3 linked regions of the Homo sapiens genome follow. The protein of the gene in region 2 purifies or fractionates together with the protein of the main gene of each other region. This does not show direct contact. Each region holds a gene or a part of one and is shown on either strand. Other genes may lie near its edges.

The links.
Region 1: the proteins of BPNT1 (region 2) and CPS1 purify together in Homo sapiens (affinity purification with mass spectrometry; 2 studies listed by BioGRID and IntAct, with this or other methods). This does not show direct contact.
Region 3: the proteins of BPNT1 (region 2) and MYO9A purify together in Homo sapiens (affinity purification with mass spectrometry; 2 studies listed by BioGRID and IntAct, with this or other methods). This does not show direct contact.

The regions. Positions count from the first base shown.
Region 1 is NC_000002.12:210,552,353-210,560,152, forward strand, and holds the start of CPS1 (carbamoyl-phosphate synthase [ammonia], mitochondrial isoform b precursor), read left to right. Parts: upstream 1-4,246; 5' UTR 4,247-4,366; coding exon of another isoform or gene 4,367-4,381; coding exon 4,382-4,507; intron 4,508-7,800. UniProt on the Homo sapiens protein: Involved in the urea cycle of ureotelic animals where the enzyme plays an important role in removing excess ammonia from the cell.
Region 2 is NC_000001.11:220,065,635-220,073,246, reverse strand, and holds part of BPNT1 (3'(2'),5'-bisphosphate nucleotidase 1), read left to right. Parts: intron 1-289; coding exon 290-397; intron 398-3,814; coding exon 3,815-3,863; intron 3,864-5,853; coding exon 5,854-5,945; intron 5,946-7,129; coding exon of another isoform or gene 7,130-7,174; intron 7,175-7,612. UniProt on the Homo sapiens protein: Phosphatase that converts 3'(2')-phosphoadenosine 5'-phosphate (PAP) to AMP and inositol 1,4-bisphosphate (Ins(1,4)P2) to inositol 4-phosphate. Is also able to hydrolyze adenosine 3'-phosphate 5'-phosphosulfate (PAPS) to adenosine 5'-phosphosulfate (APS).
Region 3 is NC_000015.10:71,897,597-71,905,208, reverse strand, and holds part of MYO9A (unconventional myosin-IXa), read left to right. Parts: intron 1-202; coding exon 203-283; intron 284-1,169; coding exon 1,170-1,280; intron 1,281-2,145; coding exon 2,146-2,268; intron 2,269-3,868; coding exon 3,869-4,018; intron 4,019-5,202; coding exon 5,203-5,522; intron 5,523-6,176; coding exon 6,177-7,612. UniProt on the Homo sapiens protein: Myosins are actin-based motor molecules with ATPase activity. Unconventional myosins serve in intracellular movements. Regulates Rho by stimulating it's GTPase activity in neurons.

The DNA.
Region 1 (7,800 bases), on a different chromosome or scaffold from region 2:
TGTTCCTGCTTAAATAATCATCACTGATCAGGCAGGAATTAAGCACACAGCAATCCATTCATTCAGTCATTTTTCCAGAAGCATCTCTTGCATGCTTGCTATGTTAGAGACTTTTTGATAGATGCACCAACTTCTTAGAGTTGTTTCTGATTCATTACTTAGGAACATTTCAAGAGGGCAGTTGGAAGTCTCTGTACCTTCAAAGGAATTACTAACACCCTTATTTTCTCTTCATTCCAAAACCTAAGACCTTTATTCTCTAAGACATCCTGTTCTCATTTTTTTTTTCAATCTGTAGCAGGTCTTCCCTTGCTTATGTCAGTGGACTGTTTAAATGAAGAGTGGACTGTTTGAGAAGTGGACTGTTTAAATCAGTATAGACACAGGCTGTCAGTGTTTCTTTATGTTTCCTTTAAAGACATTTTCGTAATGATTAATATAAATGAGTTAATGGAAACAAAAATGTAAACAGTAGTTGATAAAAGAATAGTATCAATTAAAAACATACTGTGAAGTATTCAACTTCACCAGTGATTTAAAATAGAAATGAAAGCAAAATAATATTTTCTACAGCGGAGCAAATAAAATGAAAGATAATACATAATGTTGGTGAGGACATTTTTAAAGGGACACCCATATATTGCACTGGTATGTAGGTGAGTACACTCTCTTTGGAGAGAAATTTGTAAATAGTAATCAAATATGGCAATATTGACATGCATTGTAGCAGCAATGAAAATGGAATATTTTGTAATCATTTAAAGTAATGTTTTAAAAGAACTTTGTAATAACATCAAAATACATTTAACATAATATTGCCTCCAAAAAGCATTATGCAAGTCAATGGCAATTTTCAAAACTATGTTCTGAGCATTGACATAAATGCTAGAAGATAATACTTTAGTGTTAACAGAGATTATGTTTGTGTGGTGGGTTATTATCTATTATTCTGTATTTCCACATTTCTTTAAATATCAAATGAAAGTGAATACAACCTAGTACTTGACATTTTAACATTTTCAATACCAGATATGTCAATAAGGAATTCATAAAATAAAGTGCCCTGAGGGATTTCACAGGCTAAATGCTTCTATTTTTTAAAATGTATTAATAGAAAAGAAGACTAAATCTAAAAAAAAAAATTCATTTTATCAGAGAGTGACTCATAAGTTTAGAAAACCTTTGATGACCTGGCTCACAAAGAATGTACTTCCAAGTACACAGGGTCCCCAGCCTGATGTGTGTGCCTGCATTCATGCCTGTCACTCTGCTCAGCTGCGTGCAGACAGCTTATATGAAGGAGGACTGTGTACATGTGGTCAGAGAAGAAAAAAATGCTTATTTTTTAAAATGTTTTGAAAAATAATCTGTCCTAAAAGTGTAACATTTCCACTAAATTTTTTCATGTCTGACTTTAACATTCCCTACCAACCAACTCTTATAGCCTCAACTCCTTTGATCTATCCTAATGTAAACTCCCTCACTAATGTGTAATATATTTTTTTCCAGTTTGGTTATAGATTTCAGTCTAGCCTGAACACTCAAGTATGAAACTAGCCACTATTTTATTTATTGGCTGTTCCAACCTCCATTGTGGAATTATAATTGATGGATTTTCCAAGTCTCTAATTCAGAATATTTAATCAAATTTTCCAAAATTTCTGCCTTCTCCTCCTTCATTCTGATGACTAAAGACATGGACCATAAAATATATATACATATATACATACATATGTATATGTATGTATATACACATATATATATGTATGTATATATACATACATATATATATGTATATATACACACACATATACATATGTATGTATATATACACACACACATATATATATGTATGTATATATATACACACACATATATATATGTATGTATATATATACACACACATATATATATGTATGTATATATATACACACACACACCGTAGTTTGCAAGTCTGCATCTGGGACCCTTTACTGATAAAAATGAAAGCCCATTAAAACTCTCATGCCCACATTTCTCTCTAGACTTTAGAGTAGGAGAATTCTATCCTAGAATTGTTGATTGTTGACATTTCTATGGAAAAACATGTTTAATTCATCATGCTTTGTAGTCAACTGCTATAAATGGTGATGAAGTCTTTTCCTTGGTCAAGCTCTGGACTCCTCAGTACTTCCACTGTCATATTTGATTAAAACATAAGTGATGAAGGGAGGAAATATATTATAGTATTCATTGCATGGGTACCTTAGGGTAATGGGACTATGACTGATTTAAATTTATTTTGCATCCTAAAAAGTTTCCATTAGTGGGTGCAGCACACCAGCATGGCACATGTATACATATGTAACTAACCTGCACAATGTGCACATGTACCCTAAAACTTAAAGTATAATAATAAAAGAAAAAAAAACTTAAAAAGAAAAGTTTCCATAATGAGGATTGAGTTTATATCGTTTTCTTAATTAAGGAAAGACAACCCTCACTACACACACACACACACACACACACACACACATAAAAAGACAAGAGGTGAGATCAAGGCGTAAACTAGTATTGGACTAAGCCAGTAAGTACTGCTTCTCAGTCCTCAGTTCTCTAGGTTGGGAGTTTTCCTTTTGCTATTTTCATTCTCCTCCAATTCATTTTTCAATGATCTTCAACACAAATTTCGCCTTTATTTCTTGTTCAAAATACTTCCATGACTATTATGAATACTATTTATGGATGAAGGCTGAACATTTTAAGGCATACTAAGTCTCCCATGATATGGTACCTTTTCATTTTCCCATTCTATACCCTGCATCTAGGCTTTTAAAAAATATACCACATGACTTCATGCCTCTAGGCTATTGCTCATGCCACGGCATCCCTTCTGGGTTTTTTCCCCTCTTTATCTACTTGGTGAATTTGCATCCTTCAGTATAACACAGCTCAACATAATTCTATGCTTAAACTTTACTGAAAATGCACAAGGAACTTGATCTTTCTTTCTTATTTTCCCCATTTTATTTATTTTCCCATTGCATTTGGGCAACTTTCATGGCACCAGTTATTTTATTAATTATTTGTATAAACTAGTATGAGCCTATTTTGTTTAGCTTTCTATCACCAGGAGCCATGAAGCACTTTGAAATCAAATACTGTTTGTACTTGAATATATTAAGTAAGCGTGAGGACTTAAATTAAACTTTGTTCCTCTTTAAAAAAATCCTTACCCCAACTCTAGCACTGATTCTATGTTATTGAAGCTTACAATCTTTATGTCATTTTCTGTCATCTTTTCTGTTATGAGAAGACCTAGGTATGAGTCTATTGCCTTTATTCCTTGGCCTTCTTTGCAAGGGTATCAAAGAACACTGCTGCAGTACTTCCTGTTCTACATAGTCATGTGACTTAAGCAAGAGCATCTGCCAGCCAGTGAGGCCCCTTGAGAGCCTGGTTAAACATGGGACTGAAGGGTTAAGTGAATCACTTTTTATTCATGTTGAAATATGAATGCTGAAGTTTGGAAAATTTTATATATAACATTTTAATAACTAAAAAAACTTGACTTAGGAATAGTGCTTATATTAAAATCAGTGTTTGTCATTGTTTCATGAAGTTTTTACAAATCTAAGAGGCTTAAGAGGGATATAATAGTCCACTTTGCTTTAGTTGTGTTTTACTTGATATTACTGATTGCTTTAACTTTGAAACACAGAACAATGCTATAGTAAGAATGTAGTATACTACTCTATTAACCCAAAACATAATATAGATAGGTTTATTGTATATTTGTGGAGAAAAGTTTATTCTAACGTTCTTTTTACAAATAGTAAAAATGCTATTTGTAGGATGCTCTGATTTTTACTTTTTGTAAAAAGAACATTGTCTTTTTACCCCAACAGAAAATGGCAAGCGTTCAGCTTTCTTTGGGAATCCAAAATCTCTTATGAGGCATATTAGGTATCACATGTGACATAAGCAAAAGCCTGTGATCCTTAGCATGTTGGAAAGTTGCTACTCTTTAGGATAAGGTTGTCCATGATGTCTAGGTCATTCCATTCAGCTGCATAAACAATTCCTTTGATGGATGGCTGGTTTTCTACAACCCCAGCATTATTTTAGCAGGAGAAGGTAGTATTTGATGTGTTGCAATTTGTGTTACATGCCCATGGAACATCTCTGGACATTACCTCAGGAGGAGGGGTTAAGAGAAGGAGGAGCTGTGGCTGAAGACATTTAATGGCAGAATGAATGGAAATTCAAAGATCGCTGTGCAGTCAGCCTTAAACACTGACTGCACCCCTCCCAGATTTCTTTTACATTAACTAAAAAGTCTTATCACACAATCTCATAAAATTTATGTAATTTCATTTAATTTTAGCCACAAATCATCAAAATGACGAGGATTTTGACAGCTTTCAAAGTGGTGAGGACACTGAAGACTGGTTTTGGCTTTACCAATGTGACTGCACACCAAAAATGGAAATTTTCAAGACCTGGCATCAGGCTCCTTTCTGTCAAGGTAATACCCATATTGATTGTTTCTGATAAAATACTATGGGGTATAGTTTAGCAGTGAAGCAAAGGTGTCCCTTACAAGGCAAATACAGTTTTGAATGTAGCTCTGAAGTACTAATGTATTAATGTTTCCTTTACTGTGGAACCTACTGACTTAGCAAATGCTAATTTTTATCTTATCTGAGTAACATGACAGTAATTTTTACCCAACATAAAGAATGATGACAATTCTTGTGAACATGTAAAATGTAAGTACACTGCTTGAAAAAGAAACATCTTTTCTTTCATAGATAGCTTTCTGTGACTAGATACTATTGCTTACAGTTTGGATTTAAAAAATGGAGCTGCTTATATGTGTGTGAGCCACATTATGGTACACAGTGTGTTAAGGTCTGTTCTATAAATAGGGCTTACTGAAAAGTTCTCTTTTGAAATATCATTTAAACATTTTAAAAACATAATTAGAAAATATGTGTTTTTGAGATTTGCAGGTCATCATGTAGACACTGCTTTAGCTTTTTCCTTTTCCTTCTGGCTGTTTTTTTGGGCAGGCTAAACTTATTATTTTCATTTTGTAGAGTAATACATAGAGGCAGATAGCAGCTGATAATTCTGTCCCTCCACAGGTATCTATAATTGAGAGGGCAAGCCCAGGAAAGAAACATTAATTGCCCTTCTTCCTGCCCCCCAGCATTGAATTATGAAATTCCTGTAGGAACCTCTGCTCCTTCCTGCAACTTTATGAAGACGTTCATTATCAGAGAAGCCTGAAGTTACTCCATAGGAACTTTGCCAATGAAAATAATCTTTAGTGACTATAAGTTTAAGTAATTATATTAGCTTTAGATATATTGCTTCTTTAGCAGCAAAAGCTGTAAAATTTGAAATAGAAAAAACAAAAGAAAACCTCTGTCTGTTGATGTGAAAATGGGAACTCACAGTTTGGAGTGTTCTGCTTATACTTTGCATGCTCATTGAGTTGACTAAGCTTCTATTGTTTCAGTTGCTCAAGTCAGGATTCAGTGGGGTTTTGGTCCTGACACCTGCAAGGCCAAGGAATATTCATAGATTCCTGTGGCTGCCAGGGATAGGGATGGGAAAGGAATGGGAGTAAAAGAAAAGGAAGAGAGATGGAGACAGGGGGAGGGGAAGGGGAGAAGTGTGAGGGATGGGAGGGAGAGAGAGAGAGAAAGAGAGAGAAACTAGCTCAAGATCCCAGGAGAAAAGAGGAAATACATATAGTAGCCTTAGTGGTGTGTTAACAACTTCAGCCTTTAACATTGAGAAGATTCTAACAAGAGTATAGGAAATTACCATTTTAAATTAAGAAAACCAGAAAGGAAAATGTCTTTTATGTTGTTACATATTCCAATGTATCCAATTTTACTCTTTTTAAATGGACATCATGTTTTAAAGATAGTTAAAATCATTAGGATGTAGTTACATAATGGCCATAAAGGGCACTGGGAGCAGTCACTAAAGGTTAGTGGCATTATGTCTAGTTATATATATTTTCTTGAATTTAGCTTAATTATAGCAAAAGAATGGGAAAGGAGAATATTCTAAACTAACATCAAAGACATTGTAACTAGATGTAAACTATGAGAATTTATTGTTAGTAATACCTCAAGGTACTCATGTATCAGTTCAGAGAAAATCAATAGTAATGAAAGTTATCCCCTATGATTATATGTGCCATCTAATACTTCAAAGTTGGGTGACTTGGAATATCTTCTTCTCACTCTGTGAGAAGGTAGGTATGTAGGTAAGGATAGGTGCATCTTCATCAGACCCCAGAAACCGCGAAATTGAGTACTTACTTAAAATGGCACAGATATGATTGAAATTAGAATCCAATTCTCCAAGATCACAATAAGTGCTCCATACAACCACCACCACAATCACAACCACGACAAAATGGTCTAATTATGTGGATGGATTACTGTGAAAGCAGTTCTAGCTCATGGTGACAGATCTGTTTCAAGGGTCTGTCACAGTGCACAGCTAAGAATGACAAATTTGTAGGAGCACTAAGCCATCATTTCATGGTGTAAAAGCCATTACTCACACTCAATCATTACTGGCCAGAGTTTTGGAGGAATGCCAAGCACAAAAAATAGAAGTTCTTGAACTTCACAATAGTGAATTAAAATTCCATAGAACAGCCCAAGGGGACTTGTGTTATTATTCAGTTATTGTGAAATAGTCCTCTATCTACTTTTCTTCCTGCCTTCACTTTAAAAACTCAACTGTCTTAGAAAAATATATCCAAATTTACTATTTTTAGATGGACATCATATTTTAAAGATAGTTAAAATCATTAGGATGTAGTTACATAATGGTCAGTGAAGGGCACTGAGAACAGTCACTTTAAAGGTTAGTAGCATTATGTCCAGTTATAGATGGTAAATGGATTGGGAAAGACACCCTGTAGTCACATCTATAATCATTGCCCTGTAAATTGGGTTGCTTTTTCGACATATTTAGAGGTTTGCTTTTCCTCTCTCTTTGATGACAGAGACGGTGGGTTTGACGACAGCAATGACGCACTTATAATTTTATGTGGCCCTTCCCTGGGTATTTGTCAGCGGCTAATATTTATAGAGTGCTTTGCCAATCGGCACAGTTGTATTTTACTTACAGGAAAGAGGAAAGAATTTCAAGGTGCTCTATATTTTAAAGAAAGTTGATATCAAGGGTATAAATGATCAACAACCATAAAATACTAAATACTAAAAAGTTTTAGATACCATAATCTTTTTCCATTAGTACTGAAAATGTTCAGCACTCATTATTACATTCAGCAGGCTGTAACAGTGTAATAGTGGGATATACTCTGGATTGGGCACAAAAAGATCTGGAATCTAACCCCTGTTATGCATTTCCTAATGCCCTGTTCTTGGACAAGTCACATATTCTCTGAACCTAAGTTTTGTCATCTGTATAGTGCAAATGATGACTGATTTACTTGACAAATTATGTGATTGTCACACATGAACAATTCTCAAAAATCTTTAAAGTTTTAAATTTAAACCATTAAACTGAACATTTTAAAGCAAAAACTGGATATTTAAAAAAAAATTCCATTCTATACATTTTAGTAGAAGGACTTAGTAGAGGGTTAGATCAAAGAGTCCTTATGTTTTTTATGGACTACAAGTTGTTGCAATGACAAGGTATTTGATAAGAATTCTCAAATATTTATAATAATGATTTGTTCACCTTTGCCTTAATATTAAACATCTCTAAGAAGATATTTCTTATAATAAATCAGACTCAAGGAAAATGAAGCAAATA
Region 2 (7,612 bases):
TATCTGCTGTCAGAGACACTTGTTTAAATGAGTGTATAATACTTAAAAATTCTTTTCTTTTTAAACTCTCTTCAGTATAATGACACTGGAACCATTTAGTCAATTTTGATGAGCCACATATGGTTGTTTTTGCAAATTTTTAAGGTTTGCTTTAAAAGCTCTAAATATAAATGGTAAACCAGAAGAACTAGTGAAAACTGTGATGCTGCATTTCTTCTGTTAATGAGACAAAGCATACTCTGTAAACACTAAACAGCTTCAGTAACCATTAGGGTTATCTCTGCTTTAGGATCTGCCTTCTGAGGAAGTGGATCAAGAGCTGATTGAAGACAGTCAGTGGGAAGAAATACTGAAGCAACCATGCCCATCGCAGTACAGTGCTATTAAAGAAGAAGATGTATGACCCATATTTATACTCAACTCTCTATTAACCTGGGCTTTTTGCCATAGTAAAGGAAATAATATTTGCATGTAAGATGAAAAATTGGTAGTTATAAAATAGGGGCAACCAGAAACTTGATATCTTTCAGAGCCAACATGGAAGTATCAGGCAACCATATGGATTTAGAGTTCAGTTTCTCATCCTATGGGTTTCCTTTGCACTCTAAAACCGTTATTTAAAATACTTTTAGGGACAGGCATGGTGGCTCACACCTGTAATCCCAGCACTCTGGGAGGCCGAGGTGGTTGGATTGCTTGAGTCTAGGAGTTCGAGACCAGACTCGGCAACATGGTGAAACTCTGTCTCAACAAAAAATACAAAAATTAGCCAGGTATGGTGGTGCACACTTATAGTCTCAGCTACTTGGGAGGTTGAGATGGGAGGATCACCTGAGCCCATGGAGGTTGAGGCTGCAACCAGCACCATCTCTTTTTTTTTTTTCTGAGACGGAGTCTCGCTCTGTCACCAGGCTGGAGTACAGGGCCGCGATCTTGGCTCACCACAACCTCCACCTCCTGGGTTCAGGCGATTCTCCTGCCTCAGCCTCCCAAGTAGCTAGGACTACAGGCGCGCACCACCATGCCCAGCTAATTTTTTTGTATTTTTAGTAGAGATGGGGTTTCACCATGTTGGCCAGAATGGTCTTGATCTCTTGACCTCGTGATCCGCCTACCTCAGCCTCCCAAAGTGCTGGGATTACAGGCTTGAGCCACCTTACCTGGCCCCAGCACCATCTCTTAAAGAGATTATTTTTTCCCCAGTTGAATGGCCCTGGCACACTTGTGAAAAATCAGCAGGCCATAGATGTATAGGTTTCACGCTGGCCATGGTGGCTCACGCCTATAATCCCAGCACTTTGGGAGGCTGAGGCGGGCAGATCACCTGAGGTCGAGAGTTCAAGACCAGCCTGACCAACATGGAGAATCCCCGTCTCTTCTAAAAATACAAAATTAGCTGGGCGTGGTGGCACATGCCTGTAATCCCAGTTACTCAGGAGGCTGAGGCAGGAGAATTGCTTGAACCTGGGAGGCGGAGGTTACAGTGAGCCGAGATTGCGCCATTGCACTCCAGTCTGGGTGACAAGAGCAAAACTTAGTCTCAAAAAGAAGAAAAAAGAAAAGAAATAGATGTATGGGTTTCATTATGGACTCTCAGTTATATTCTATTGGTCTATATGTCTATCCTTATGCCAGTACCACACTTTCTTGCTTTGCATTAAGTTTTGCAATTGGGAAGTGTAAGTTGTCCTACTTTGTTCCTACCTTGTGCAGTTTTACATGTACCTTACAGCCTGGACAGCAGAGTGAGACCCTGTCTCATTAAATAAATAAATAAATACTTTTAGGAAGAAAATCTAATTTGTTATTTAGTAGATATGTAGTAGATTTGCTAGTAAAACATTCATTGGTAATTGGGGATAGAAGGCTATGAAACAGGTTGCTACCTTATATTTTTAGAAGAACATAAATGTCATCCTGCTTGCTTTTTATAGTTGCTTAAGTTAAACCTGTGACTTCAGATAGCCACCATAATGTCTTTAGTTTTCCAATTTTTAATTATTTAAGGCATATTCATTGGAGACTTACTATGAATAAGACACTTTGCTCTGTGGTATGGAGGAAACAAAGAAAATGAGACATGGTGGGGCTGGGCATGGTGGCTCACGCCTGTAATCTCAGCACTTTAGGAGGCCGAGGCAGGCGGATCACGAGGTCAGGAGATCGAGACCAACCTCCGCCTCCCAGGTTCAAGCAATTCTCCTGCCTCAGCCTCCTGAGTAACTGGGATTACAGGCATGTGCCACCACGCCCAGCTAATTTTGTATTTTTAGAAGAGACGGGGATTCTCCATGTTGGTCAGGCTGGTCTTGAACTCTCGACCTCAGGTGATCTGCCCGCCTCAGCCTCCCAAAGTGCTGGGATTATAGGCGTGAGCCACCATGACCAGCGTGAAACCTATACATCTATGGCCTGCTGATTTTTCACAAGTGTGCCAGGGCCATTCAACTGGGGAAAAAATAATCTCTTTAAGAGATGGTGCTGGGGCCAGGTAAGGTGGCTCAAGCCTGTAATCCCAGCACTTTGGGAGGCTGAGGTAGGCGGATCACGAGGTCAAGAGATCAAGACCATTCTGGCCAACATGGTGAAACCCCATCTCTACTAAAAATACAAAAAAATTAGCTGGGCATGGTGGTGCGCGCCTGTAGTCCTAGCTACTTGGGAGGCTGAGGCAGGAGAATCGCCTGAATCCGCTAACACGGTGAAACCCTATCTCTACTAAAAATACAAAAAATTAGCTGGGTGTGGTGGCAGGCGCCTGTAGTCCCAGCTACTTGGGAGGCTGAGGCAGGAGAATGGCATGAACCCGGGAGGCAGAGGTTGCAGTGAGCCGAGATCGCGCCACTGCACTCCAGCCTGGGTGACAGAGTGAGACTCTGTCTCAAAAAAAGCAAAAAAGAAAAGAAAGTGAGACATGGTGTTCTCCATCAGAAACATGCCCTCACTCAGAAATTCACATAATGTTATCATTGTAGTGGTTAAAGGCAGCATATCCTGAATCATATTAAATGTCCTAAACAGAAGGAATTTTCCTTTTAAATCTGCTGCCAGTTTTATTATTCATTTTTCTTTGGATTGTATGGACTGTGTCCTTAAGATAATCAGACTTGTTTTTTTAAAATCAGCACTTATATATAAAAATGAGTAGCAACTGTGCTTGTTCAAAACATTTTTTTGCCACTTTACAAGTTTTTCCTGTACCATGATCTAGAGATCAGTATATTCATTGTGCTTAGTGTTCAAATGACAACAAACTTTTATCAGTTAAGCATTTCATGTTGAAAATCATTTTTTTGTATTTTTTTTTTTTGAGATGGAGTTTTGCTCTTGTCATCCAGGCTGGAGTGCAATGGCACGATCTCTGCTCACTGCTACCTCCGCCTCCTGAGTTCAAGTGATTCTCCTGCCTCAGCCTACTGAGTAGCTGGGATTACAGCCACCCACCACCACGCCCGGCTAATTTTTGTATTTTTAGTAGAGATGGGGTTTCACCACTTTGGCCGGGCTGGTCTCGAACTCCTGACTTCAGGTGATCCACCCGCCTCGGCCTCTCAAAGTGCGGGATTACAGGTGTGAGCCACCGTGCTTGGCCTGAAAATTCTTAAATCAGACTTTTTTCTTATTCAAATGGACTTTTTCCATGATTACAAAAGAATAAGCTTTTTGTACTATCTCAAAACAGATGACATTAATTTAAGCCATCCATAATACAATTTCAAACAGGAAAAAAAGAGTAATTTTAATCTATTTAAATCTATTTTTAGAATTTTGTGTGCTTGATTTAGATATTTTCCTTCTCTCTTTTTAATTTTAGCTCGTGGTCTGGGTTGATCCTCTGGATGGAACCAAGGAATATACCGAAGGTTGATATCTCTTTTGTATTCATATTTGACAGTAGTGGGACAAGGATATGATGTTAGTTGTAAATATTTGATATTTTGTATGTTGTATGGAAAGCTACTATCATGTGTTATGTTTACCCCTAAAGCTATATTTGTGCTCATGGTTATCATACATCGTTGATTGTTAAGACAGGAGAATAAAATTCATCTCCTTCAAATACCACCCCCCACATACTCCACCAGCCCCACACTTCTAATGTCTCCCAGATGAGAATAACATATTAAACCAGTGTTACCAAAATGACTATACTGAACCCAGCTTTATTGGGGTAGAAAAACGATAACGAGTACAACTGTGTAGCTCTTGCTCTGCCACCACCACCATCCCATGCCCTCCCCATTCACTCTCCCCTAATCTGTGAACTGCTTTCACATTTCATAGCCTCACCTTCTAAAGGTGGGTTTTGAAACACAGTACAATATTTCTCCTTATCTAAGATGAGAACAATTAGAGAGCAACAAATTAAAATAAAATTGGCCATATAAATGTAGGAATGAACAAGCTCAGAGCCAGAGTTTTAGGTTTTGTTTTTTCTATTAGACAGTCTTGCTCATTGCCCAGGCTAGAGTGCAGTGGCACCATCTCGGCTCACTGCAACCTCTGCCTCCCAGGTTCAAGCTGTTCTCCTGCCTCACCTCCCAAGTAGCGGGGATTACAGGCACCTGCCACCACGCCCAGCTAATTTTTGTATTTTTAGGAGAGATGGGGTTTCACCATGTTGGTCAGGCTGGTCTTGAACTCCTGACCTCAGGTGATCCACTCACCTGGGCCTCCCAAAGTGCTGGGATTACAGGTGTGAGCCACCGCACCTGGTAGGTTTTAGGTTTTAAGCTTAGAGTTTTATTTTTAAACTTAAGATCTAGGCCAGGCGTGGTGGCTTATGCCTGTAATCCCAGCACTTTGGGAGGCCGAGGTGGGCAGATAATTAGGTCGGAAGTTCAAGACCAGCCTGGCCAACATGGTGAAACACCTTCTCTCCTAAAAATACAAAAATTAGCTGGGCCTGGTGGCACACGTCTGTAATCCCAGCTACTTGTGGGGCTGAGGCAGGAGAATTGCTTGAATCCAGAAGACAGAGGTTGCAGTGAGCTGAGATCATGCCACTGCACTCCAGCCTGGGTGACAGAGCAAGACTCTGTTTCAAAAAAAGAAAATAAGAATAATAATGATGATGATGATGATAAAATTAAATTAAGGTCTACATAAATTTTCTTGTATTGGCTCTCAGGACATGGCTTAAAAAATTTATCATAATTACTAGAAAAAAACTATTTTACTGTTCTTGAATGAGACATCGCTATAATGGGTGAATCACAGTGTGTGTATACATGTGTATGTATGTGTGTGTGCTGAAAACATCTGTAGAACCCATTGTGAAATAAGGAAGCTCTAGACAACTTTAATGTGTATAAAAGCACCTAGAAAGCTTATTTAGGTCTTGTCCCCCACTCTCAGATTTTGATTCACTAGTTCTGGGAAGGAGCCTGAGAAGATCTGTATTATAAAAAGTACATCAGTTAATTCTAATGCTGCTTGATAGTCCTTGGGCCTCCCTTTGAGAAACTCTGTTTTAAAGGCTTGAAATACAAGTCTAGAGTGTAATCCAGGAATATAAAGTGATTCGGCAGGTAAGGATGAGTTGGATGATGGTGGAAGAGGCACAGAGGAATCTGATGATGATGGCTGCAAAATTATGGCTGCTTTATTTAGTTGGTTTACACATTGTACTAATGAGACCATGATAGCCAATTCAATTAAGTGGCCATAGATCCTATGGCTGTTTCTGGCCAGCTTATCATTTATGCCTTTCACTATAAATAGGATTGATCACGGATGAATCATTGCAAATTCCATACCTTAACTGCAAAACTAACTTGGAGCAATTGATGTAGTAATGATGAGTCATAATATGAGCAAGTTATATAACTGATATTTATTTCTTCTTTGCAGGTCTTCTTGACAATGTAACAGTTCTTATTGGAATTGCTTATGAAGGAAAAGCCATAGCAGGAGTTATTAACCAGCCATATTACAACTATGAGGTATTACTATAAATGATACAAAGTAATTTCATTAGATAAATAATTATAGTGTTATCTGATTCTTTATGTTACCTAAGCAAGTGGTTTTTAGCTTGGTTGCATATGCAATCATCTGGGGAACTTTTCATTTTTTAAATTTTATTTATTTATTTATTTATTTTTAACTTTTTTTTTAGCTATGCTATTAACTGATGAGAAACCTTTAAAAATACGGATTCCCAGGCCATACCCCAGACCTACTGAATCAAAATCGCTGGGGGCATTGGTACTGGGTATGTATATATATGCATGTGTATGTACACAGACCCACTAAATGCATTATATATTTTTTAATTTATTCCTTATGATTCAAATATAAATGTTGAGAGAATTACTGATAGGGTTCTTGATTAGCTTGGGCATCAAGACACCTGATTTATGATTGGTTCCTGAAGCACATTCAAGAAATGAACCATTTCAACTAAGAAAAGATGCTAGGCCTGTTGTTTTCCAGGTAACGCTGTGTAGCGCCTAAGTTACAGTCAGTGTTGGTAACAGAACGTACTATGCTCTTGCATTCTTTTTTCTTGTCTCTTCTAATCTGCTTTGATTTTCTATTATACATCAGATAAATTGCCTTCCATAGAAGCAAGGGACTAGTGTAATTTCAAAGCAAGAATTTACCATTAAATTGCATTAAATTGTATAGGAAATTGTTGAGATAAAGTAGTTAAGGTATTTATATTAATGTGACCTTGATAGAACTTTAGAGAAACAAAGTAATCAGAGTGGGCAATACTACTTCTGAATTTCCACTCTGAGTTAAAAGCAAGGTTAAGCTTTATTTCTAATATAAATTTGTTTTTTCCTGCTGTTTGTATGATTATAAATTATATTAAGAATCGTGTTTCTTAGGATTTACCAAAAGAGTTATATGTTATTGAGAAAGTCTCTGGGGTTAAATTGCTTGTGTCTATTAATTCTTTAAATATGATTTTAATGTTGATACTGTTATATACAGACATAAGTTTGTGGTTTTTATGTAAACTTTAAGTTAATACTATTACTTTCAAAAGGGGCATTTAATTCATATAAAGCATTGTAATGCACGGTACCTTTCATCAAGAAAAAATCTAAGTGCTTAGGAGTTAATAATTTTCACCACTTCTTTCTGAGATTAGAAAAATTGTATTCATTTTCCACAGAACAATGAAAAACAGCAGTTAAGGGAACACAGGAATGAAGCAAAGGTGAGAAAAATAGCTAGGGTTTTGGCTCCACTAGTAGGTAGAAAAGAAGCAGGCAACTTGTGGTACCCCAGGTGGTCATTGTACATCCCACATACCAGTTCATTTTCTCCAGTTCTGCTTCTCTTCATTACCTCTCTCTGTACCACTTCCCTTCTGGACACTCTGTTTATCCTTTCTCTTGCTTCTCTTGCTTATGCCTTAAAATTCATTACCACAAATGGAAGTAGAAAAGTTGCTCAGCTGTGTTGGTGGTATTCAGGCTAAAGATTCAATTTTAAATAATAATCATCATCACCATAATAGCTAAAATTTATTAAGAGTTTACTGTATGCTGCCAGGTTCAAGGGTTTCAAATGTATCCTTTCATTGAATACTAACCACAGCCCTTTAAATAAACTATTATCCCCATTTTAAAGAGGAAACTGAGGCAATTAACTT
Region 3 (7,612 bases), on a different chromosome or scaffold from region 2:
TTAATATTAAACTACCATCTTTATCCTTAATTATCCATAATTTAACCAGTATGAGAATATACACAATGTGCTTTTCAAAAACCTCTTTCTATGTGTACCTCTACTTTTTGAATGTTTTGCCAGCATGTTGATTATAGTTATAAATTATTTGTTAATAGTTTGGAATGGAAGAGTATGATAATTATATTGCTTTCTGTTGCAGGCATCATTAAGCAAGCTAATGGAAACACTTGGTCAAGCAGAACCATATTTTGTAAAATGCATTCGCTCTAATGCTGAAAAGGTAAAAATGTCCTATAAATGAGAGCACATATCTCAGCTTACTTCAAACTGAGCTTTAAATACTTTTAAGCAGAATAAGTGGAGGGGAAGCACTAACTATAATATTTATAAGGAAAATAGTATGTTATAAACACTTTAAATGGATTTTTCCACACTTCCCTGCCTGTAAGGTGTTTATTTGGATTTGATTTAGCATCACCCAGAATTTGAGAAGCAAATACCTCTTGAAGTCCTGTCAGAAAAGAATTTTCTTTTTTGTTTTTGTTTTTGTTTTGAGGCAGAGTCTCACTGTGTCACCTAGGCTGGAGTGCAGTGGCATGATCTCAGCTCACTGTAATCTCCGCCTCCTGGTTTCAAGCAGTTCTCCTGCCTCAGCCTCCTGAGTAGCTGGGACTACAGGTGTGCACCACCACGCCCGGCTAATTTTTGTATTTTTAGTAGAGACAAGGATTTGCCATGTTGGCCAGGCTGGTCTTGAACTCCTGACCTCAGGTGATCAGCCCACCTTGGCCTCCCAAAGTGCTAGGATTATAGGCGTGAGCCACTACACCCAGTTGTAGGTTATCTTGTTACAGATTTTGTAGTGATTGGACTATGTGGCCTCTGTGGGTGACTACATTCTTTTTGAGCCTTTAAGGTCCTCTCTCTTCACAACCAGAGAAGCCTGGAAGCTTGGTTTCTCTCTTTTCCCTAGGGTTGGGCAGTCAGAACTTTTCTGAAGCTACCAGCTGAGAGGTGAGCTTGCCTTAATATACTTAGTTACTGTATATGTTAACCAGACAACCTCCAGTCAATCTCTAGATACTCAACAGTTAGTCATGCTTATAAACAGATAATTAATTTGGAGATCTACTGTTCTGGGTTAATCTTTTTTCCATTTGCTTTAGCTGCCCTTAAGGTTCAGTGATGTCTTGGTACTTAGACAGCTTCGATACACCGGGATGCTGGAAACAGTTCGAATTCGCCAATCAGGATACAGCTCCAAATATTCTTTCCAGGTTCTGTTTTTATAGTGATATTTACATATTTAGACACATCAAGTAAATGATTCCCACATATCTTGCTTATTATTTCTTTGGGGCTTACTTATTTTCCTTAATTCTTCCTTTCCATTTCACGTTTTGTATACGGAATTGAAAAGGGATAGACAGTATTTACTTTGATTGAATGGCAGCAATCTCATTAAGCTTATTGTAATAGAATCCAGTACTTGGCTATTCTCATTTGCTCGGAATGTTTGCTAATACTAAATTTACTCCTGATATAACAATTCTTTGCACTGACCTCTCCAGTAACTGAAATAGTTCAATGAGAATTATCTAGTGAAAAGATTCTATTTGGTTTTCCCTAAAGTTTTCTCAGCAGGATTTTCTTTCATAGTAAGCTGCCAGCAAGGCTCACAGCTACTCGTATCAGCAATTGCTGCTATGGGTATGGAAACTATATTGAAGCTGTTCAGCAACTGAGCAAGTCTTTGCTGTTACTGGGACGGAAAGCCTCATTCTCAGTGATACCCTGTCCCCATCCTGCCACGTTTGCTTTTTTTTTCCTGATAGAAATTTTAGGGTCTTGTTAAATACCCTTTTCTTTGGTCTTTTATAAAGCTTTCTCAAAAGGGATAATTAGCCTCTGCCTTTTTTTTCTCTCATTCCCTTTTGATGTCATGATATGTAGAACCCAATATCTTTCTCCACCTCCTATGTTTTCCGAATTAACCTTTTATCATATCTTAAATTAACATGCACGTCTTGGTTTCACCCTGTTTAAAAGAAAGAGAAAAGATTAATAGAATGATAATTAGTTTAAGGTCTTGTTTACATACACTGTTTTCTGATTTTACAATATTTTTAAATTATTTTTCAGGATTTTGTGAGCCACTTCCATGTACTTCTTCCCCGAAATATTATTCCATCCAAATTTAACATTCAGGATTTCTTCAGGAAAATAAATCTTAATCCAGATAATTATCAAGTTGGAAAAACCATGGTAAATATAATCTGTATAGCTCTGGTCAAAATTGAGTGCATTTATTTAAAAAATAATAATTTTTGCCTATGAGATTGTTTATTAAAAAGATAGTGAATCAGATATCAGAAGACAATTGGTTAGGCCCAGGTTTTTATTTAATTATGTAGTCAATATTAATCACAGAGCTCTGGCCAGTGCTCTAGTTCTGACTATAATTTTAACTGCCTAAAAATCATCTCTCCATAGATACTCTACTGTAATCTCCAAGCCAGCTTGCCCAAGGTGACCATATCCAGATTCATCTGTTCTTAAATTTATCAAATACTTTCTTTCTCTGTCACCCTTTTTCCAGTTTCTCAGTCTAGAAACCATAATTGTCTTTGGCATACCGTTCACTTTAATCCTTTCACAAAGTTTTAGGGATTTTTTTTCCTTTTACAAAGAGATTCTTACATCGCTTTCTGTTTCTCCATTACTACTGCTTCCATTTTATTTTTATTCCTTATCTCTTCTCATCTACATTGCTTATACAGTGAACAGCTTACTTATCTGATTCTAGTATATTTGTCATTCCATTTAATTTATTCTACTCATAATATTAAAATTATTATCTTAATATACTTAGTTCTTTATGTCTGCCTCCTGCTTGATAATAACCTCCTGATAACCTCCTCATTAAATCCAAACATCTTTCTCTTTTTTGAGAACCTTCATATTGTGGCTTCACATTACTTAATATCTTTTTTATGGAGATTAATTGTCCCGTTGTCTCCTGTGCATGCCTTTATTATTATTTTCAACTCTCTGTGTTACTCAGGTGGGATCTTTTGTCTCTGGCCCTTATTAGTTTACCATCTTCCTCTTCGGGTATATAATATCTACCTGCTCTCAAATGAGAGGTATAATTCCTGTTTCTAAAGGGATATGTCTCCTTCACCTTTGCAGCCTCACAAACCCTAAACATTAGTGGAATGAAGGAGTAAATAAAATAAACTTATTAATAACTTTGGACAGTGAGAAGCTTTTAATGCACGCTGGATTTCAAAAAGACTGTTATCATTGGTTTATTCATTATATGATTCAAGCTTCAAGATCTATGGTTTTCAACTTTTTTCCCCATCCCAACACGCTTGAAAAATATGACTTATTACCAGTAATACATTTACTCATAGCAGTGGTTTCCCCAATGGACTAATGTATCATAATCTCTGGCACTGGAATTTTGATATTCTTGCTCACCTTGTCATTTTTCCCTCCCTTCCTCCCTTCCTTACCTTCCTTTTTTTGTCTTTTTTTTTTTTGGAGACCAGGTCTCTCTATTTTGCCGTAGAACTGGAACTCCTGGGCTTCAGCAAACTTCCTGTTTCAGCCTTCTCAGTAGTTAGGAGTATAGGCATGTAGCACCACACCCAGCTCACCTTCCGTATTCTACTATCTCCATTTCAATTTGAGAATGACTACTTTGGATAAATCTGTAGGAATATTTATCAGTACTTCATTTACATGCCTGCCACTGTGTTTGTTCTTCTCTAAAAGCTTATCACAGAAAGGATGATTCATGAAATAAATTTCTCATTTCTTCTTAAGCTGCATTCCTCATCTTTCTTCCTTTTGGTAGGTCTTTCTAAAGGAGCAGGAACGACAGCACTTACAAGATCTGCTTCACCAAGAGGTGCTCCGCAGAATCATATTGTTGCAGCGATGGTTCAGGGTCTTGCTGTGTAGGCAGCATTTCCTCCATCTGAGACAAGCATCTGTTATTATCCAGGTGAGAAGCAAAGGATTCTTTGCATGAGATTGACTAGTTTATTTGGCCTTTGTTTAGTAACCAGAACCTTTTTACTGTAAAACATTTTCAGTAATAATGTGAACTTCAGAAATGAGAATATGTCGTACCCAATTTTGAAGTGCTCATAACACCCAACAGATTATCTGGCATATAATAGACTATTAATAAATATTGATTCCATTGAATTTAAATTAAATTGAATTTGTAGTTATAATGTCTTGTGAGATCTGTGTAGGGGCTAAGGAGTTACCTAATATTTGTTGACATAGTTGTTTTTATTTAATAGTTTTTGGAGTGATGTTTGAGAGTTGTATATATACCGTTGGTTTTAGACACTCATTTTGGATGATAGGTACCTTATTTTACATTTTATTTGTTTTATTAACTCCCTCATTGATTTATATCATTTCCATAAGATCTTTTCCATTTGTGCAAGAAAATCTTTAGTATCTTCATCTTTGGAATGTGTGTCAGGATTACCTTAAACCCATTAGTGTTATTTAGGAAAATTGTAACAAAAGAATATAATATGTTAAAGTTACTAATAATTTGAAGGACATGAAATCATCCAAAAATTTTAAATTAGGTTCTGTAATTAACTTCTTCAAGGTTATATTATTTAAAATAGCTGTTTTAGCCAAACATATCTGGAAGAGAAAACTTTTTTCTATTTATCTTTTTCAGGTACACTTTCTGCTTTTGTAGAAAACTAGTTTTTTTATTTTTATTTTTTTGAGACAGAGTCTCACTCTGTCACCCAGGCTGGAGTGCAGTGGCGTGAATTCTGCTCACTGCAAGCTCCAGCTCCCAGGTTCACGCCATTCTCCTGCCTCAGCCTCCTGAGTAGCTGGGACTATAGGCACCCACCACCACGCCCAGCTAATTTTTTTTGTATTTTTAGTAGAGACGGGGTTTCACCATGTTAGCCAGGTTGGTCTCTATCTCCTGACCTCATGATCTGCCTGCCTTAGCCTCCAAAAGTGCTGGGATTACAGGCATGAGCCACCGCACCTGGCCAGAAAACTTATTTTTAATCACCAAGAATTTAGCTGCATAGCCACTTAACCTGTAATTATGACATAAGAAATTTATTCTCTTTTTTTCCTGTGAAAATGCAGTGTAAGATATGACAACCAGTTTCTGTTATTTTGTCTTCCCCATAGAGATTCTGGAGGAATTACCTAAATCAGAAGCAAGTCAGAGATGCAGCTGTGCAGAAGGATGCTTTTGTTATGGCTAGTGCAGCTGCTCTTCTCCAAGCTTCCTGGCGTGCTCACTTAGAGAGGCAGCGGTACTTGGAGTTACGGGCTGCAGCCATCGTTATCCAGCAGAAATGGAGAGATTACTATAGGCGCAGGCACATGGCTGCTATTTGCATACAAGCAAGATGGAAAGCCTACAGGGAAAGTAAAAGGTACCAAGAACAAAGGAAAAAAATTATCCTTTTGCAATCAACATGTAGAGGATTCAGAGCAAGACAAAGGTAATCTCTATTACTATAATAATTGCTTTTTTTCTTCTTCCCAAGTACTTTGTTTATACCTCTGCATTAACACTTGTCTAATTTGTATTAGAATTGGTTGTATACAATTTGTCTTTTCCACTATACTGTGATACCGATTTTAACCCACATTGTATTGTCTATAATGGAAGTTAAATAAGGTTTTATTGAATTAAATTGGATTGAAAATCTACATGGTCTGTGATCATAACTGCTAAGAATTAACTTCTACATTAGGCTGAATCTTATAAAATTGGCAATATTCAACTGTTGTTACTTTCAGAAACTTTAATTTCACACTTAAATTAAAATTTCACTTTAATTTCACACTTAAAATTTCACTTTAATTTGAGGTTTACTTTAAAATAAAGGCATTATTAAAATGAGAGCTTTACTTCTGAATTAGTTTACATTTTGACTGAAATGCCTAGGTAGAAGTAATACACTTAATGAAATATCATCTGACTCATGGAAATAGGAAAATTATGAAATGTGCATTCAAGTTAGTTTAAGAAGAACTTAGGTATTATAAAAAGATTTTACAACTCTGCATTTTTTCTTAAATTCTCAGGAAATATGTTATTTTCAGTGGTAACTAAGATATTTCTATAACCCATTTTGTCTGTTTTTATATAGATTTAAAGCTTTAAAAGAACAAAGGCTAAGAGAAACAAAGCCAGAAGTTGGATTGGTGAATATTAAGGGATATGGATCTCTGGAAATTCAGGGTTCAGACCCTTCAGGATGGGAGGATTGTTCTTTTGACAACAGAATAAAAGCCATAGAGGAATGTAAATCTGTAATAGAGAGTAATCGAATTAGCCGTGAAAGTTCAGTGGACTGCTTGAAGGAGTCACCAAACAAGCAGCAGGAGAGAGCCCAAAGCCAGAGTGGTGTGGACTTGCAGGAAGATGTGCTTGTAAGAGAGAGACCCAGATCCTTGGAGGATCTCCATCAGAAAAAAGTAGGCCGGGCTAAGAGAGAAAGTAGGAGAATGAGAGAACTAGAGCAAGCTATATTTAGCTTAGAATTGCTGAAAGTTCGTTCTCTTGGTGGTATTTCTCCTTCAGAGGATCGCAGATGGTCTACAGAATTGGTGCCTGAAGGCCTTCAGTCTCCACGGGGTACACCTGATAGTGAGAGCTCTCAAGGAAGCTTGGAACTTCTGAGCTATGAGGAAAGCCAAAAGAGCAAACTAGAGTCTGTCATTTCAGATGAAGGAGACTTGCAGTTTCCATCACCTAAGATATCCAGCAGTCCAAAATTTGATTCACGGGACAATGCCCTCAGTGCCTCAAATGAGACTAGCAGTGCAGAGCATTTGAAGGATGGAACTATGAAGGAAATGGTGGTCTGCAGTTCTGAGTCTATTACCTGTAAACCACAGCTGAAAGACTCCTTCATTTCAAATAGTCTACCTACTTTTTTTTATATCCCCCAACAAGACCCACTGAAAACAAATTCCCAACTAGACACAAGTATCCAAAGAAACAAACTATTGGAAAATGAAGACACAGCGGGGGAAGCTCTTACTTTGGATATCAACAGGGAAACTAGAAGGTATCACTGCTCAGGAAAAGATCAGATTGTTCCTTCTTTGAATACAGAGTCTTCTAATCCTGTGCTTAAGAAGTTAGAAAAGCTAAACACTGAGAAGGAAGAAAGGCAAAAACAGTTGCAGCAACAGAATGAAAAAGAGATGATGGAACAGATTCGCCAGCAAACAGATATTTTAGAGAAGGAGCGCAAAGCCTTCAAGACAATTGAAAAGCCAAGAATTGGAGAGTGTTTGGTGGCACCATCTTCCTATCAGTCAAAGCAAAGAGTAGAGAGGCCATCCTCTCTCCTCAGCTTAAATACCTCAAATAAGGGAGAACTTAATGTACTGGGGTCCCTATCATTAAAAGATGCAGCTCTTGCCCAAAAAGACAGTTCCTCTGCTCACTTACCCCCAAAGGACCGACCTGTCACCGTGTTCTTTGAAAGAAAAGGAAGTCCATGCCAATCTAGTACTGTCAAGGAATTATCCAAGACAGACAGAATGGGCACCCAGCTGAATGTAGCCTGTAAAC